Linked DNA regions of Homo sapiens: region 1 is linked to region 2. The links come from fine-mapping of genetic effects on gene expression. Tissue or cell type: whole blood. Region 2 holds a variant in brackets; the other region holds the start of a gene. All regions are shown on one strand. Distances are from middle to middle.

Region 1 (8,097 bases), 91 kb before region 2:
GATCAAAAACCTTCATTCACACAAACAATAATCAGAAGATGTAATGGAAGAGGAAAACTCCATTTACAATGGTAATAAAGATAAAACACATAGGAATAAACTTAGGACATACGTAAGACCTATATTGGATAAAACTTTAAAACATGATTCATGAAGTATTATTTTGGGAAGAAAAGAGAAAAATGTGTGTTTCATGAAAGGTACAATAGTAGATGCAAATCAATGGAAAGACAGTCCTTGTTCTTGGAAGACTCAACAACCAAGAAAGACGGGTGCCAGACATGACGTGAGAGTATGTGAGGATGACCCTAGATAGCCTGACAAGGGTATCGCCTGAGAATGTGTGAAGATGACCCCAGAGAGCCTTACAAGGCTATCTTGTAAAGGATGTTCAGATTTACCTATTCAAGGCCCATCTTGAGCTCTCCCTGCCACAGCCCTGGGATCAGCCATTTCTCCCAGGAGCCCTGGTCCGTATTCATGGGGGATGGTATTTAGGAGCAGTGTTCTGGGTGCCAGGAGTGCTCAGTGCCACTGGGATGTCATTGCATCCAAGTCCTTTCAGCATTTCTGTATTAGTCAGTATTCACACTGCTATTCAGACATACCTGAGACTGGTAATTTATAAATAAAAAGAAGTTGAATGGACTCACAGTTCCACATGGCTGGGGAGGCCTCTCAGTCTTGGCGGAAGGCAAAAGGCACATCTTACATGGCAACAGATGAGAGAAAATGAGAACCAAGCAAAAGGGGTTTCCCCTTATCAAACCATCAGATCTCATGAGACTTACTCACTACCAAGAGAACAGTATGGGGGAAACTGCCCCCATGATTCAATTATGTCCCACCAGGTCCCTCCCACAATGCATGGGAATTATGGGAGATACAATTCAAGATGAGATTTGGGTGGGGACACAGCCAAACCATATCAATTTCCAAAAATAAAAATGAAAAAAAATTATTTTCCTTTTTTCCTTTTTTTTTTTCACCCAGGCTGGAGTGCAGTGGTGTGATCATAGTTCACTGCAGCCTCCATCTTCCAGGCTCAAGCAATCCTTCCACCTCAGCCTCCTAAGTAGCTGGGACTATATGCGTGCACCACCACACCCAGCTAATTTTCTATTTTTATTTTTGTAGACATGAGGTCTTACTGTTTGCCCAGGCTGGTCTTGAACTCCTGGTGTCCATCCATCCTCCTGACTCAGCCTCCCAAAGAGCTGGGATTACAGGCCTGAGTCACTGCACCTGGCCATGATTCACTTTTTTTTTTTTTTTTTTTTTGAGCTGGAGTCTTGCTCTGTCGCCCAGGCTGGAGTGCAGTGGCGCGGTCTCAGCTCATTGCAACCTCTGCCTCCCGGGTTCAATAGGTTCTGATGCCTCAGCCTCCTGAGTAGCTGGGATTATAGGTACATGCCACCATGCCTGGCTAATTTTTGTATTTTTAGTAGAGATGGAGTTTTGCCACGTTGGCCAGGCTGGTGTTGAACTCCTGACTTCAAGTGATCCATCCACCTCAGCCTCCCAAAGTGCTGGGATTACAGGTGTGAGCCACCGCACCCGGCCGACTTCTAATGAACAGAATATGGCAAAAGCCTAGGGAAGTCACTTCTGAGATTAGGGTGCAAGGAGACTGTGATGTGCGTCTTGTGTGTGCCTCCTCTTGTGTGTGCTTGCACCGTCTAAGGCAAGCCAGCTGCAGTGTTGTGAGCTTCCTTGTGGTAAGGCCCATGTACCAAGGAACTGAGGGTGGCCTTTGGGCAGCAGCCAGCAAGGCTGAGGCCCTTCTCTAATGACCTTGGAGGACTGAGTCCTTACAATATCCGTGTGTGTGAGCTTGGGAGTGGATCATTCCAGATAAGCTTTCCGATGAAACCACAACCCTGGGGGGACACCTTGACCACAACTTGGTGAACCCTTGAGGCAAAGGCACAGAGCTTAGCCACGCCCACTTTCCTGACCGCGGATACCATGAAAAAATAAATGTTCTTTTAGGCTGCTAAATGTTGGGTTAATTTGTTATGCAGAAAAAGGAACCAAATACAATCTTCTACCAGTAAGGAAGAGTGCACCTTCTTTGCTTGTCACCTTTGGATTCCTGAGGCAACGTACATCATACTTGATACGGCTGCCAAGCACTTAACTTACTGGGTGACTTGAAAGCATGCTTTTTTTTCTTTTTTTTTTTTAGACGGGGTCTGGCTCTGTTGCCCAGGCTGGAGTGCAGTGCCTTGATCATAGCTCACTGCAGCCTCCATCTCCCAGGCTCCAGCGATCCTCCCACCTCAGCGTCCAGAGTATCAGGAACTACAGGCACGTGCCACCATACCCGGCTAATTTTTATTTTTTTAATTTATTTTTTATTTTTTAAAACAGAGTCTCATTCTGTCGCCCAGGCTGGAGTGCAGTGGCACGATCTCGGCTCACTGCAACCTCCACCTCCCGGGCTTAAACGATTTTCCTGCCTCAGCCTCCCGAGTAGCTGGGATTACAGGCACCTGCCACCACGCCTGGCTAATTTTTGTATTTTTAGCAGAGACGGGGTTACGGGGTTTCGTCATGTTGGCCAGGCGGGTCTCGAACTCCTGAGCTCAAGCGATCCGCCCGCCTGGGCCTCCCAAAATGCTGGGATCACAGGCGTGAGTCACCGCTCCCGGACACAAGCATTATTATAACACTACCCACCCTGTGTATTTTTTAGCACCTATCCTGATTTTTTAAATTCAGCACGAAGTTTAAGTCCTAGCCCTGTTGATCCCAATAGCCGTAGCTCATCCATTTCGACTCCGAGCCGAGCTCCATACCCTGGACCCTCGGCGGAGGCCCCACCCCGGGACGCCAGCCCGGCCGGGGCAGCTTGCACCCCAGACCCCCAAGCCCTGCGGGGCCCAAACCTAGTCATCTGCACTTGTTCTGGGCAGGGCGGGTTGCCTTGGCAACCAGCTCCTCTCCAAGCAACTCTAGGCCTCTAGAGATGGCGTCAGTAGCCCGCGCCCGGTCCTGGAACCGCCCCCCGTGCTGCCGCCGCTTGCCATTAGCCGGCGGAGAGACGGACGCAGACCTCGTCCAATGGGAGGCTCCGCACTCCTGAAGGCGGGACTAACGCTTACCTGGGGCGCGGGTCCCTGCCGGAAGGCGGCGTCCGCGACGCAGCTGTTCACGCTTAGGTGGGCGACGTGGGCGCAGGTGGGCGCAGGTAGGCGCGTGGGGCGGCGGCGGGGTGGCCGGCGGGTCAGGGCGCCAGGAGACCCAGAGCCCCGGGGCGGGCTCCCGCGGGGCTCCGCCCCCTCCACGTGGGTGCGCGGAGGCCCGGCGCGGCGCGACCGGGCGGCGGCCCTGGGGTCCGCGGTGCTGGGGAGGCTGGTGCGGCCGGTGCGGCCGGTGCGTCCCGGCGCGGGCTCCGACACCCGCACCCGCCTCTGGGTTAACTCAGCGCGGGCGAGTGGAAGGGACTCAGCTGGCTCCTAGGTTTCAGGCCGTCAGGGCTTGCAGTGGCTCTGGTTTCATTGTCTTTCTCTGAAGACGCCCTGATTGCCCTCCGAGGCTTTCAGCTCCCACTTTCTCTTTTTCAATTTTTGAGGCAGTGTCTCGCTGTGCCACCCAGGCTGGAGTGCAATGGCGTGATCATAGCTCACTGCAGCCTCCACCTCCTGGGCTCAAGCCGTCCTCCCGCCTCATCCTCCCAAGTAGCTGGGACCACATGCGCGCGCCACCACACCCGGATAATTTTTAAAAATGTTTTTTGTAGAAATGGGGTCTCACCATGTTACCCAGGCTGGTCTCGAATTCTTGGGCTCAAGCGATGGATCCTCCTGCCTCGGCCTCCCAAAGTGCTGGGATTACAGGAGTGAGCCAACGCGCTTGGCCTCACTTTCCATCATAAGCATGCTTTCCGTTTCCTTCCTTCCGTCATTCATTCATTCATTTTTAAAAAACGTTCATTGGGTTCCTCCTGCACTGTTCGGGGCATTGGGCTACAGCTGTCAACAAGTGGAGACAAGTCTGTGATCTAGTGAACTTCCATTCTGGAGGGGAGAGACAGATGAACAAGGTGCACAGAGCAGGTGATGGTAAGTGCCATGGAGAAGATGAGAACAGGGGTTTTGAGAATGGAAAGGAAGCAGGAGGAGGAGTGAGGCACCAGAACATTCCAGGTCGAGGAAACAGCAGGTGCAGGGGAAACAGCAGGGAGCCCAGTGTGGCTGCAGCCAATTTGGGAACAGAGAGAGAAAGAGGAGGTGAGTTCCCAGAGATGCGAGGAGGGGCCAGGGCAGTCGTGTGGACCTTACCAAGTGGCAAGGACCTTGACTTTCCCTCCAAGTGGAAGGGGACAGCTTGGGAAGTTTTTTGAGTGGAGGTGACACACCATCTGATTTAGGAGTTTAAAAGCCATCGTGAGAGGTGGTGGCTTGGACTGGGTACCTATGGGATCTTAAGGGAGTCACATTCTGGGTGTATTTCAGTGGTAAACCAACAGGAGTTTGTGGTGGGTTGGACGAGTATGTGAGAAAGAGAGGATTTATGGATGGACCAAGGTTTTAAGCTTGAGCTACTATGTGAACCTCATCAGATGGATGTTTATGGAGAGGATGAACACTAGGAAGCTCAGGTTTGTGGAGGGTGATCAGGGGTATTGATTACGAATTCTTAAGCTTGAGATGATATATGTGTAGATGATATATATAAGTACATATATATGGTTATATATATAGTTATATATATACACAGTTTATACACACATCCGCATATATATATTTATTTTTATATATTTATATATATTTATATATGTTTATATATGTTTATATATGTTTATGTTTATATGTTTATATATGTTTATATATGTTCATATATATGTTTATATATATTTATATATGTTTATATATATTTATATGTTTATATATGTTTATATATTTATATATGTTTATATATGTTTATATATATTTATATATATGTTTATATATATTTATATATATGTTTATATATATTTATATATATGTTTATATATTTATATATATTTATATATATGTTTATATATATTTATATGTTTATATATTTATATATTTATGTTTATATATATTTATATATGTTTATATATATTTATATATATTTTATATATTTATATATGTTTATATATATTTATATATATTTTATATATTTATATATGTTTATATATATTTATATATTTGTGTATATATTTATAATTATGTATATTTATACATATTTATGTATATATATTTATATATTTATGTATATATTTATATATATTTATGTATATATATTTATATACACATTTATATAAATTTATATATACTTATATTTATATATATTTATATATACTTATATATTTATACATATATTTATATATACATATATATTTTATATATATATTTATATATGCTTATATATTTATATATACTTATATATATTTATATATATTTATATATACTTATATATTTATATATACTTATATATATTTTTATATATACTTATATATTTATATATTCATATATATTTTTATATATTTATATAAATACATATTTATGTAAATATATTTATATATTTATTTTATATAAATAAATAAATAAATTGTGTATATATATATATATATATATTTCTTTTTGAGGTGGAGTCTCACTCTGTTGTCCAGGCTGGAGTGCAGTGGCGCGATCTCGGCTCACTGCAACCTCCACCTCGTATTCAAACGATTCTCCTGCCTCAGCCTCCCGAGTAGCTGGGTTTACAGGCAGGTGCCAGCACACCCAGCTAATTTTTGTGTTTTCAGTAAAGATGGGGTTTCACCATGTTAGCCAGGCTGGTCTCAAACTCCTGACCTCAAGTGATCTCCCCGCCTCGGCCTCCCAAAGTGCTGGGATTACAGGCGTGAGCCACCGTGCCCGGCCATACACATACATATATATACACACATGTAGATATATGTGTATAAACAGTGTAAACAGAGGTCAGGAGTTCAAGTATATATATGTGTATATATGTCTAGGTACACATATATGACCATGTATATATATATAACTATATGTATATACATACAACTATAGCTATATATATACACAGTTGAGTTGGCGTGTAGTTGAAGGAGAGGGTTAATAAGAGACTGTAAAGAGAGGAAACAAAGTCATCAGCGTCTAGTTGGTATTTGAAGCCACATGACTGAATGGGATCACGAGGGAGTGAGGAGGCTGAGCACTAAGCCTGGGTCCTTCAGTGTTCAAGGACACGGCGATTAAGAGGTGGGAGCAAAAGCAGAAGTTCTGCTGTCTGTGCTGGATGCCAAGTGAAAAATGCCTGTCAAGAGAGAAGGAAGGATCAACAGTCCAACGCTGTTAGGTCAAATAAGTTGCATACTGAGAGTTGGCAATGGGATTTAGCCACGTGGGTGTCATTGTGGTAGGGTGTTTGGGGCAAAAGCCTGATGGGATGGGGGAAGGAAAGGAGTCAGAGACAGGGCAGGTAGATGACTCTTTATGTATTTATTTATTTATTTATTTTTGAGAAGGAGTCTCACTCTGTAGCCCAGGCTGGAGTGCAGTGGTGCGATCTCGGCTCACTGCAAGCTCCGCCTCCCAGGTTCACATCATTCTCCTGCCTCAGCCTCCCGAGTAGCTGAGTAGCTGGGACTACAGGCACCCGCCACTATGCCCAGCTAATTTTTTGTATTTTTTAGTAGAGACGGGGTTTCACCATGTTAGCCAGGATGGTCTCGATCTCCTGACCTTGTGATCTGCCTGTCTCGGCCTCCCAAAGTGCTGGGATTATAGGCGTGAGCCACCGCACCCGGCCTATTTATTTATTTATTTAGAGACACAGTGTCACTCTGTTACCCATGCTGGAGTGCAGTGGCGCGATCTCGGCTCACTGTAATCTCCATAGTTTCAAGTGATTCTCCTGCCTCAGCCTCCCGAGTAGCTGGGACTACAGGCACACGCCACCACACCTGGCTAATTTTTGTATTTTTAGTAGAGATGGGGTTTCACCATATTGGCCAGCCTAGTCTCGAACTCCTGACTTCAGGTGATCTGCCCACCTCGGCCTCCCAAAGTGCTGGTATTACAGGTGTGAGCCACTGCGCTCAGCCTTGCCCCCCACCCTTTTAAGAGACAGTCTCTCACTCTGTCGCCGAGGCTGGAGTATCATGGCGTGATCGTGATTCACTGCACCCTTGAACTCCTAGGCTCAAGTGATTCTCCTGCCTCAACCTCCCAAGTAGCTGGGACTACAGGCACGCACCACCATGCCCAGCGAATTAAAAAAATATATATATATATTTTGGGGCCAGGTGTGGTGGCTCACGCCTGCAATCCCAGCAGTCCAAGGTGGGAGGATCACTTGAGCTCAGGAGTTTGAGACCAGTCTGGGAAACATGGCGAAACCCCATTCCCACAAAAAATACAAGAGTTAGCTACGTGGTGGTGTACACCTGTAGTGCCAGCTACTCCGGAGGCTGAGTTGGGAGGATTGCTTGAGCCTGGGTGGTCGAGGCTGCAGTGAGCTGTGATTATGCCACTGTGTTCCAGCCTAAATTTTGTCTCACAACAAACATTATAGCAAATGATCTTTCTCCCATTTATTTATTTATTTATCGTAAAGTAGCACCTGGGTGTTTTTTTTTTTTTTTGAGATGGAGTCTCATTCTCGCCCAGGCTGGAGTGCAGTGGCTTGATCTCGGCTCACTGCAATCTCCGCCTCCCGTGTTCGCGCCATTCTCCTGCCTCAGCCTCCCGAGTAGTTGGGACTACAGGCGCCTGCCACCACGCCCGGCTAATTTTTTTTTTGTATTTTTAGTAGAGACAGGGTTTCACTGTGTTAGCCAGGGTGGTCTTGATCTCCTGACCTCGTGATCCATCTGCCTCAGCCTCCCAAAGTGCTGGGATTACAGGCGTGAGCCACCGTGCCTGGCCGCACTTGGGTGTTACATTTTTAAATTTATGGTAAATAATTTGAGAGGGATTATAGTTTTTTTTTTTTTTTTTTTTTGCAGTATATCGAGGGATTGTGAAACCATCACCACAATCTAATTTTAAGACTTTTTCCTTCTGCCACAAGAAACCCTGTGCCCCTTAGTGGTCACCCACTCTTCCCTCC
Region 2 (8,102 bases):
ACTGCAGAAGACCCTGTGCTTGCGGTTCAGAGTGGGGCCCGCTGAGGGGGCCCTGCCAAGGCCTAGCCCGCCAGAGAGACCTGGGAGGGCCCGTGTGTCCTGAGCTTTGGGGGCCGACAGTGTGGGGCAGCTCTCCTTGTTGGGGTGGGGTGGGGTGGCTGCTGGCTGCTGCCAGGCCTGGCTGGTGGGAGGCAATCAGGAGGGCCCAGGTGCACAGCTTCAGCTGTCCCTGCCCAGGGCTCCTCGCACGGGACCTTGGTGGCTTCTCTGTCATAGAACCCAGTACAGTGGTGCCCAAAATTTGACCGAAAACAGTCCTAAAACTGTTTTCCTACTTTGAGAAAGCACCACTGATTCCAGCCGCTGCCTTGACCTCTGGTCTAATTCCTTCTACCTGACATGAGGGAATGTTAGACAGGGCTTCGTAGTAAGCCTGCTAATAGGAAGGACCGTGCCCTGCTGTCTGCAGGGGCCTGGATTAGTGGTGGGCAGCAGCAGGAGTTGACATAAAGCGCTGTAAGAAACTCCCTCGCCCTCCGTCTTCCTAGGAAGGAAGTGGTTAAGGGCCTGGGCTCTGGAGCGGGCAGCAAGCATGTGCACTGCAGGCTGAGCTTTTCCAGTCCTGGCTTGCACACAGGTGCCTTTGCAGGCAGGTGACATCCTTGCTGTGTGCCTCGGTTTCCCCAGGCTTAGTAAAAATCTTCATGAGACAGGAGGGTTAAGTAAACCAACCCATGTGAAGCACAAGAGGGTGCCGGCACTTGCTCCCTGTTACCAGCCCTGGCCTGGAATGATGACGCCTGCAGATCTTTGGCCTCCTCCCCACATATAAAGGGCAGAGGAAGCTGTTCTGTGACCTTTTGCTCAGAATCTTTGTGAACGGACACGTGTGCAGGGGAAACGTGGGGCAGGGTGGGGGTGACAACAACATGGGCCCCGTCACACCCCACACTGCTGGCCAACGTGGAGGAGGAGGCAGCCCCCAGGACGCACCTGTGGGTGGCGCTTGCATGGGTAGCACAGGGTCAGACCGCGGAGGCCTGGGGAGCGCACGCTCAGACAGCGGAGGCCTGGGGAGCGCACGCTCAGACTGCAGAGGCTTTGCAGTTTTATGGTTTTTATGTTCTGAGTTGGGGCTTTGATACCAACACAATGAATTTCCCGATGTTTCACTAGTACTAAACTGGAGTATAAACACTTGCTTCCCTGGCCTCTATTCATTGCTTTCAAAGGAACATGGGACTGAGAAGGAGAACCTGCTCCAGGGGTCTTGGTTCTCTTTGGTTCATAACTCGTGAAAATGTCTGGAGCCCATGTGCGGCTGTGGAGACCATGGCCATAGCAGGGTGTGGACAGGGGCGACAGGACCCCGTCAGGCTAGCTGTCAGGAGCATTTCAAGTGAGACGTTGGCATCTTTCTTCCTATGTCTTATTTAAAAAGAGCCCAAAGTGCTATCAAACAGTCTGTTAATAATGAATGTCTGTGAGCAGTGAGGTGAACTTGGCTGAAACCCGGGGCTAACTTTGATAGGGTTTCCCAATAGAAATGGACTGCCCCAGGCCTGTTCAGAAGCAGCAGGCCTGGAGACAGAGGGGGCCTGAGTGTGGGGATGGTGACCACCCCTCTCAACCTGAGAGGCACCCGGGTCCCTGTATGTGTGTGTGAGAGAGAGAGAGCATCATAGCGCCTGCACTGCACAGAGCTGGCAGAAACAGAAACCAGCAGAGGAATCCTCTGCTCCAAGGTGGCTGAATTAGTTTCACAAAAGCCATCGCTTTTGATGTTGCTGTCCCTGTTAGTCGGGAAGTTCTTTCCTCTGTTGCTTAGGGCCCTGTCAGAGCTGGGGCCGGCAAGTCCCACGCCCGGTGATCCCCACGAAGTTTCCGGGTGCTCTCTTTCACACTGTCTTTTGCGGATGTTGATCCCTTGCCTAGAACACCCTTTCTCGCTTCCCCTCGTTCTCTCAGCAAACACTGGCTCGTCCTTGACATTTTATTTTGGGCATCAGTACCCCCGGGAACCCACCCCTGACCACTGTCTCCACACCCCTCCGCCAGTCTTTGCTGGGTTAAGCCTGTCCGCACATCCATCTCTTTCCCACCTACTTGGAGCTCTTTGCAGGCAGGGGAAGTTTTTATGTGTGCTGCAGCAGCCTGGCTGACTGTTGGATGAAAACCGTAGAAGGGGATGTATTCAGTGACGTAAAAGGCTTTTCCCCAAGGCGAGTGATCCACCAAGGCGAGTGATCCAATTTCCCCACTGAGTAGAAAGGAGAGCAGGCAGGATGGGGACTCAGCGCTTCTTATTGTCCCCGGACAGTTGTTGAAGCTTTAGAGCCTTAGATTTGAGTGGAAAGAGAACTGCGAGGCCCCAGGCACTGCATCCTCAGGATGGCAGGAAAGGAGTGGAAAGGCCACGGCCAGCTCCTGGCCGAACCTGCCATGCACCATGAGACGCTCAACCTTGGGTGAATATTCTAGAACAATCAAAATGCTTTCAAAATGACTCTGGAATGTTTATTTTCTTTTGTAGTAATGAACCCAGGCTTTAGCAACAATTAACATCCAGCTCCTAGGAGCCAGATGCTTAGGAAAGGCTGCTGTTTTCACAGGGTTTCCACGTGGAGAGCTTACGCACACTGATTCCTATCTGTGCCTTCCTGGGCTGTGATAAGAAATGGTTCATTACATAGGTGGATGGTTTTGATTTTTGTAGCCTTTTGCTTTTTACAATTCCAAACTGCAGAGTAGTGAGAGTGAATCAGGTGACTTGGCTTAGACTATAAACAAAGAGAATGCCTCTCTTTTTCCATGGATAATAGCGAGCATGTTTGCGGCTCCAGGACGGGCTCTGGGGGCCTGAGACCAAGCACCTTGCTGGGCCAGTGAGCGGGCTGGGCACCTGTGCCTGCAGCTATGGGCGCCAGTTCCCTGGAGGAAGGTGGAACAGCATTCTTTTGTTTACTTGGCTTTTTGTTCCCTAACTGGGTGTGAGGCTAATTCCCTCTCCAGGTACATCAGACCAGGGAAAAACAAAAACAAACAAAAAAGACTTCCTCAGAAATTCAAAGACATGGCCAAGAACAGAGAGTCTCTACTGCAGACTCTGGGCAGGCTTGGCACCTGCCGGGGCTCCTCAGTCGAGCCCCGGTTTACTAGGCGTGGCCTTAACCTGCAGGGAAGTGCTCTGAGCCGCAGATCTTATCACCACCTTGGTTGTTTCCCAGGGAGGAGCCAGCAGGTTATTTCTCCTCATCACACTAGCTGTGGTAGCGACAGTGGTCTGCAAGGCTTGCTTTGGTTCCAATTAAAATGGGGAAAGTCCTTGGCCTTTGCAGGAAGGGACCTGGGTGTGGCTCTGTGGGGATGAACAGACACCTGCCCCACCTCCACCTTGTCCCTCTGCTGCTCAAGGGGGTATTTTGTTTGCACACGGAGGCTCCTGGGTAGACAGCACGCTCCTAAGAAACTGACTTCTGGTCCCGGGCAGCATCTCATTTTGGGATCT[C/G]AAATTGGAGCGAAACGTTATTCTACTCTCCAGACTGGGTTCCCTGTCCTCTTGGCTACCTGGATGGTGTCTTGGGGTCCTGAGCCTTTGAGACCCCTGGACAGATGTGGGCTAACTGGACAGCCTAATGCTGGTCAGTTGGGCAGGTGGGTTAGTGAAAGCCCTGGAGAGCAGAGGAGCTGGCAGGCAGGAGGGAATGGCTGGGAAACACTGTTGACAGAAAACAGCACCGTGGGATCGTCGTGTGCATGACACGGTCGGCCGGGTTCTCTGGGTGATAATTTCCTTCTGCAAAGGCAAGACCTCGCTGTGGTTGGGTCATTAAAGGCCAGGCGGCAGTTATTTTTTCAGGATTCCAGGTGACATCCTAGGGGCTGTGAGAGCTGCAGCTCCCTGAGGAGCCCCTTCTTCTCCCTGCCCCAGTGAGCAGCATGTCCCTCTTCCGACTGTAAATTACACGAGCATATTTCCCCATGCAGCGATCTGTGCAGTATGCCATTGATTCATTGTATGATAGACATAATCAGCCTTTACATCCTAACCTAAGACCCACATGAGGTGCGCGCCCTTTGCCCTTCTCTCTTCATCAGCCTACTGGGGCTTATGAGTTGCAGGGACTCCAAGTCAACTTTCACATTTACATTCTGCCCTAAATCTGTGTTCCTCTGTCCTCCATCCTCAGGATATGTCCATGCTGGCTAGAGAGGCAGGATGACACGTGGACGCCAGCACGGATGTGTGTGGCGTCGGGCAGTGAGCTGCTCTGGCCCCGACCTCTTCTCTGTGAAAAGGCACAACAGTATTCAATACATATAAACTATGTTCTTAAGTCACTTGTCTTCAGAGGCCTTCTTCATTGAGGAAGACAACAGGGGTTCTGGTTGGGGAGCCAGGCCTTACAGTAGTTCTTGAAGGAGCTGCACAGCAGGTCATGGGTACTGTGAGTGTGCACTTCGTCTAATTATTAACAGTGCCTCCGTTCACTCTCAACGGTGCCCCAGTTAGGACGGTAGACTATCTCATCACCACTATGCGTGAGGAGCCTGGGAACATGGTCAGAACCATTTTACTCATACAAGTTTGCAGAGGCCTTTAAAGCAAGCCTCTTGGCCCTCTGTTATTGAATGCTGGCCTCTGCTAGGTGCTGCAGGTAGCAAAAGATAAAAGATGTCGTGCTGTTCCGTGTGGACAGGAGCTGGCTATTTAAAGTGGAATGGAGGACTCAAGTACATCTTCATGGGCAGGGAAGAGATCAAAGGCTGTGGACGACGAATACAGAATTATCCTCTGGTCCACCACGTAGCATGCATGCAGAGATAAGCCACTGTGACCAGTCACATCAAGATTCATAGACTTATGCCTAATTTAGAGAACTGACTTGCCAGGTTTGTAATACTAACTTAATAGTGGGTTTTCTGCTGCTGGTAGTGGTGGTTTGGCGGCTGGAGAGCACTGCCTTCCAGTGAAGCTTTGAAAGAGCCGTCCCATGCCCTGCCAACTGTCCAAGACAACTGACAGCAGATCCGACACCTCCATGTAGACACAGATCCAAAACTCACTTTAAAATACTAATCACAGAAGGGGCCGAAAGCAGTCACCATAGTGGCCCAGGAGAGCAGGATCAGTGGTGCCCTGTCGGACATGGGAGAGCCGGTGGCGGCGCTGTGCCGCCTACGCCAGCAGCAGATTCAGCTGCCATCACCAGGTTAATGACCGAAAGCCCGCCCCCGGGGCTCAGCTCGGAGCGCGGCCGGAGGACAGCGGTCCCCTCCTGGCAAGGGCACGGAGCCCCGCAGTGGGCAGCGGCCAGAGGACCCGGGTCCCAGTAAGCGCAGCGCCCGCCGTGGGAGCCACAGCAGCTTGGGGCTGGCTCCCTCCCCAGGCGGAGACTGGGGTGTGCCCCACCGACCCGACCCAGGCTCCCGGGCCCCACTCACCGGCTTGCTGGGCGGCGGCCGGCGCAGTCGCCGCCGGGCGGGCAGCTCGGGCTGGCGGAGGCGGCGGGGCTCACGGCGCGCACGCCGCCCGGGCCCTGTGTACACACGTGACCGTCGGCCCCGCCCCCGGCCGGCGAGCGGCAGCCATGCCTGGCCCCGCCCCCAGCCTTGGTCCCGCCCTGGCCTCCGCCCCCCGGCCCCGCCCTCGCGGCTAGACCGCGGGGAACCGCTCGGACCAGTGAGGTTGGGGGGCGGTGGCGGTGGAGGCAGTGCTGGTTGTGTAACCTGAGACCAGCCATTTGACGAACTCGTGCGAGATTCCCTGTGGGAGGACACACACCCAGGGCTCTGGGAGTTTTTGAGAATTCTCTTAGTGCCCAGCGCGGTTTCTTTTTACAGGCGCTGGTGCCTATTTTGCTGAGTCAGAATATACCCTAATCTGCAGGGTGCAGGCCCCACCGCCCTCCAAAGGAAATGAGTGGCTGCAAGTTAGTCCTTCCAGGTACACCTGCCCCTCTTTCTTCACCGAAGTTTGCTTGCTGTTTCCAAAGTCACCAATTACTTCCTGGTTTTAGGATTTTCTTTGTAAACGGAACACTCACAGGAAAGCCGTTTAAAGAAACACATTGCTGCCTGATTACTTTTGTAGCTATTGTTACAAGTTAAACATTGGAAAAGTTGAAACAAGGACATTTACTTTGCTGTAATTTTTGAGGTGAAACAGTCCCCCCTGCAGCACATTCTGGTTCAGGATCTAAGAACATTTCTGAAAATCAAAGCATGTGGGTTGCACAGTTCCGCATAGACTTGCTGTGAGCTGCGGGCCGAGTGGAACACCAGCAGGAAGAATAGCGGCCACTGGCCCTCCGCTGCATGATGCTGTGGCCTACTGTGTTCAGGGATGTACCTCAGCCACCTTCCTGGACAGGACGGCTTCCTGACCGTGGGTCGGAGTGGGACGTCGGGATCAGCTTTCTATTCCAGCGGGAGGGCAGGGAGAGGCTCACCACGGCCCACGCCTGCTGATGTGATACTGACTTGCTGCCCAGCCCGGCACCAGGTCCCTGGCACAGTGGATGCAGCCCGGGCCCTGTGTGCCCAGAGGTGCCGGGTACTGATCTTACTTGCCAAAGTCAGTCACAAGCAGCCAACACCGATACCTGAGGGCGTATTCTGTGTCAGGTTCTGTTCTGAGCCTCAACCATTGTTTTGAGGTAGATACGTCCGTATTTCATCAAACCTAAGACACGATTGATTAGTGTTAGCTATGCCATTACTTTATGGATTACTAAAAAGAAGGCCCTCTGCCCACTGCATTCCGACATACTGCTGATTTTAAGGCGCAGCCTCACATTAGAGATGATAAAGTGAGAGTACGCCTTAGCGTCAATGAGATAGGTCACCATGTGCATTTTAATATTTTTTTTTTTTAAAGACAGAGTTTCTGTCATGTTGCCCAGGCTGGAGTGCAATGACACGATCTTGGCTTACTGCAGCCTCAGCCTCCTGAGTAGCTGGGATTACAGGTGCGTGCCACCATGCCCAGCTAATTTTTTTTTTTTTTTTTGTAGTAGAGATGGGGTTTCACCATGTTGGTCCGGCTGGTCTCGAACTCCTGACCTCAAGTGATCCGCCTGCCTGGGCTTCCCAAAGTGCTGGGATTACAGGTGTGAGCCACTGTGCCCGGCCATGCATTTTAAATTTAATTGTGAAAACTTAAGCAACTTAGCCCAGGTCACACTGCAGGCCGTGGAGCCAGGATTTGAACCCAGGGGTATTCTGGCTTTTTAGATCAGGGTTTGGGACTTTGGGCCCTCCTAGCAGCCCGCCTAAGAGTAAGCTTCGTTATCTCCATGGTATAAATGGCCCAAGACCTCAGAATCCCTGGTCAGAGTATGCACCGTGCTGTCTGGTCCCTGTAATGCCAGGCTCTGTGGGTCCTACCCACAGGGGTGCTCTGTGGCTGGGGAATGCTAGAGGTTAGCTTCCTCTGAGCCACTGAGCTTTCAGGTCACTGCAGACCGCCTTATCTGCAGAGACTTCCTGTGCCAAGCAGGCCAGTCCTGCCAGGGAGAATGGCAGAAAGCTCGTGTGTGTCCTGGGGAGATCGTCAGAGGGAACCACCCTCCACCTGAACCACAATAAGTACTCGTAGCTGGAGGTGTAAACACTCTCCAGAGGCTGCAGCTGCGTATCCAAGGGTCCTGGCCAGCCCCTGTACAAGACTCAGTTGGTGGGGGGAAGGGTGGGCACAGATTGGGGCGTAGGGGGGCGTGTGGCCCTGACTCAGCTTCGCGGTTGCACCCTAGTCTAGTGTTGATGGTTGAAGTCACGTGGACGTGGCCTCCCCTGTGTGGCTGCTGAGGGTGTTTGAGGGCAGTTGTGTGCTCCTGGCCTGGGGTCATGTGTTTGTGGCTGTGTGCCGTGGCTGCTGAGGGCATTTGAGGGCAGTTGTGCGCTCCTGGCCTGGGGCCGTGCCTCTGTGGTTGTGTGCCGTGTGTGTTGCGGGTGGGGGGTGCCCTAGTTGTGCACCTGATTCTGCAGCCCCGCACACTGCCGAGGCTCCTGTGTGCCGTGTGTGTTGCGGGTGGGGGATGCCCTAGTTGTGCACCTGATTCTGCAGCCCCGCGCACTGCCGAGGCTGCTGTGATGCAGCC

What was found. PIP is the estimated chance that this variant, and not a neighbour inherited with it, causes the effect.
Region 1: it holds the start of CHLSN, and the variant in region 2 is fine-mapped to the expression of CHLSN in whole blood (TOPMed, PIP above 0.99).

What each region holds. Positions count from the first base shown.
Region 1 is chr7:1,133,285-1,141,381 of GRCh38, reverse strand. CHLSN (cholesin) reads left to right here and starts at 3,135. Exons shown (of 5, transcript NM_001318252.2): 1 at 3,135-4,067. RefSeq lists silencers at 2,726-2,865, 3,066-3,515, 3,526-3,575 and an enhancer at 2,906-3,005.
Region 2 is chr7:1,042,002-1,050,103 of GRCh38, reverse strand. All of the region lies in intron 2 of CHLSN (cholesin), which reads left to right. It overlaps GPR146 (G protein-coupled receptor 146), which reads right to left and starts at 5,558. Exons shown (of 2, transcript NM_001303473.2): 1 at 5,446-5,558. RefSeq lists silencers at 5,059-5,108, 5,289-5,778 and enhancers at 5,884-6,439, 7,928-8,102. The variant C/G (reference allele first, on the strand shown) is at 3,509.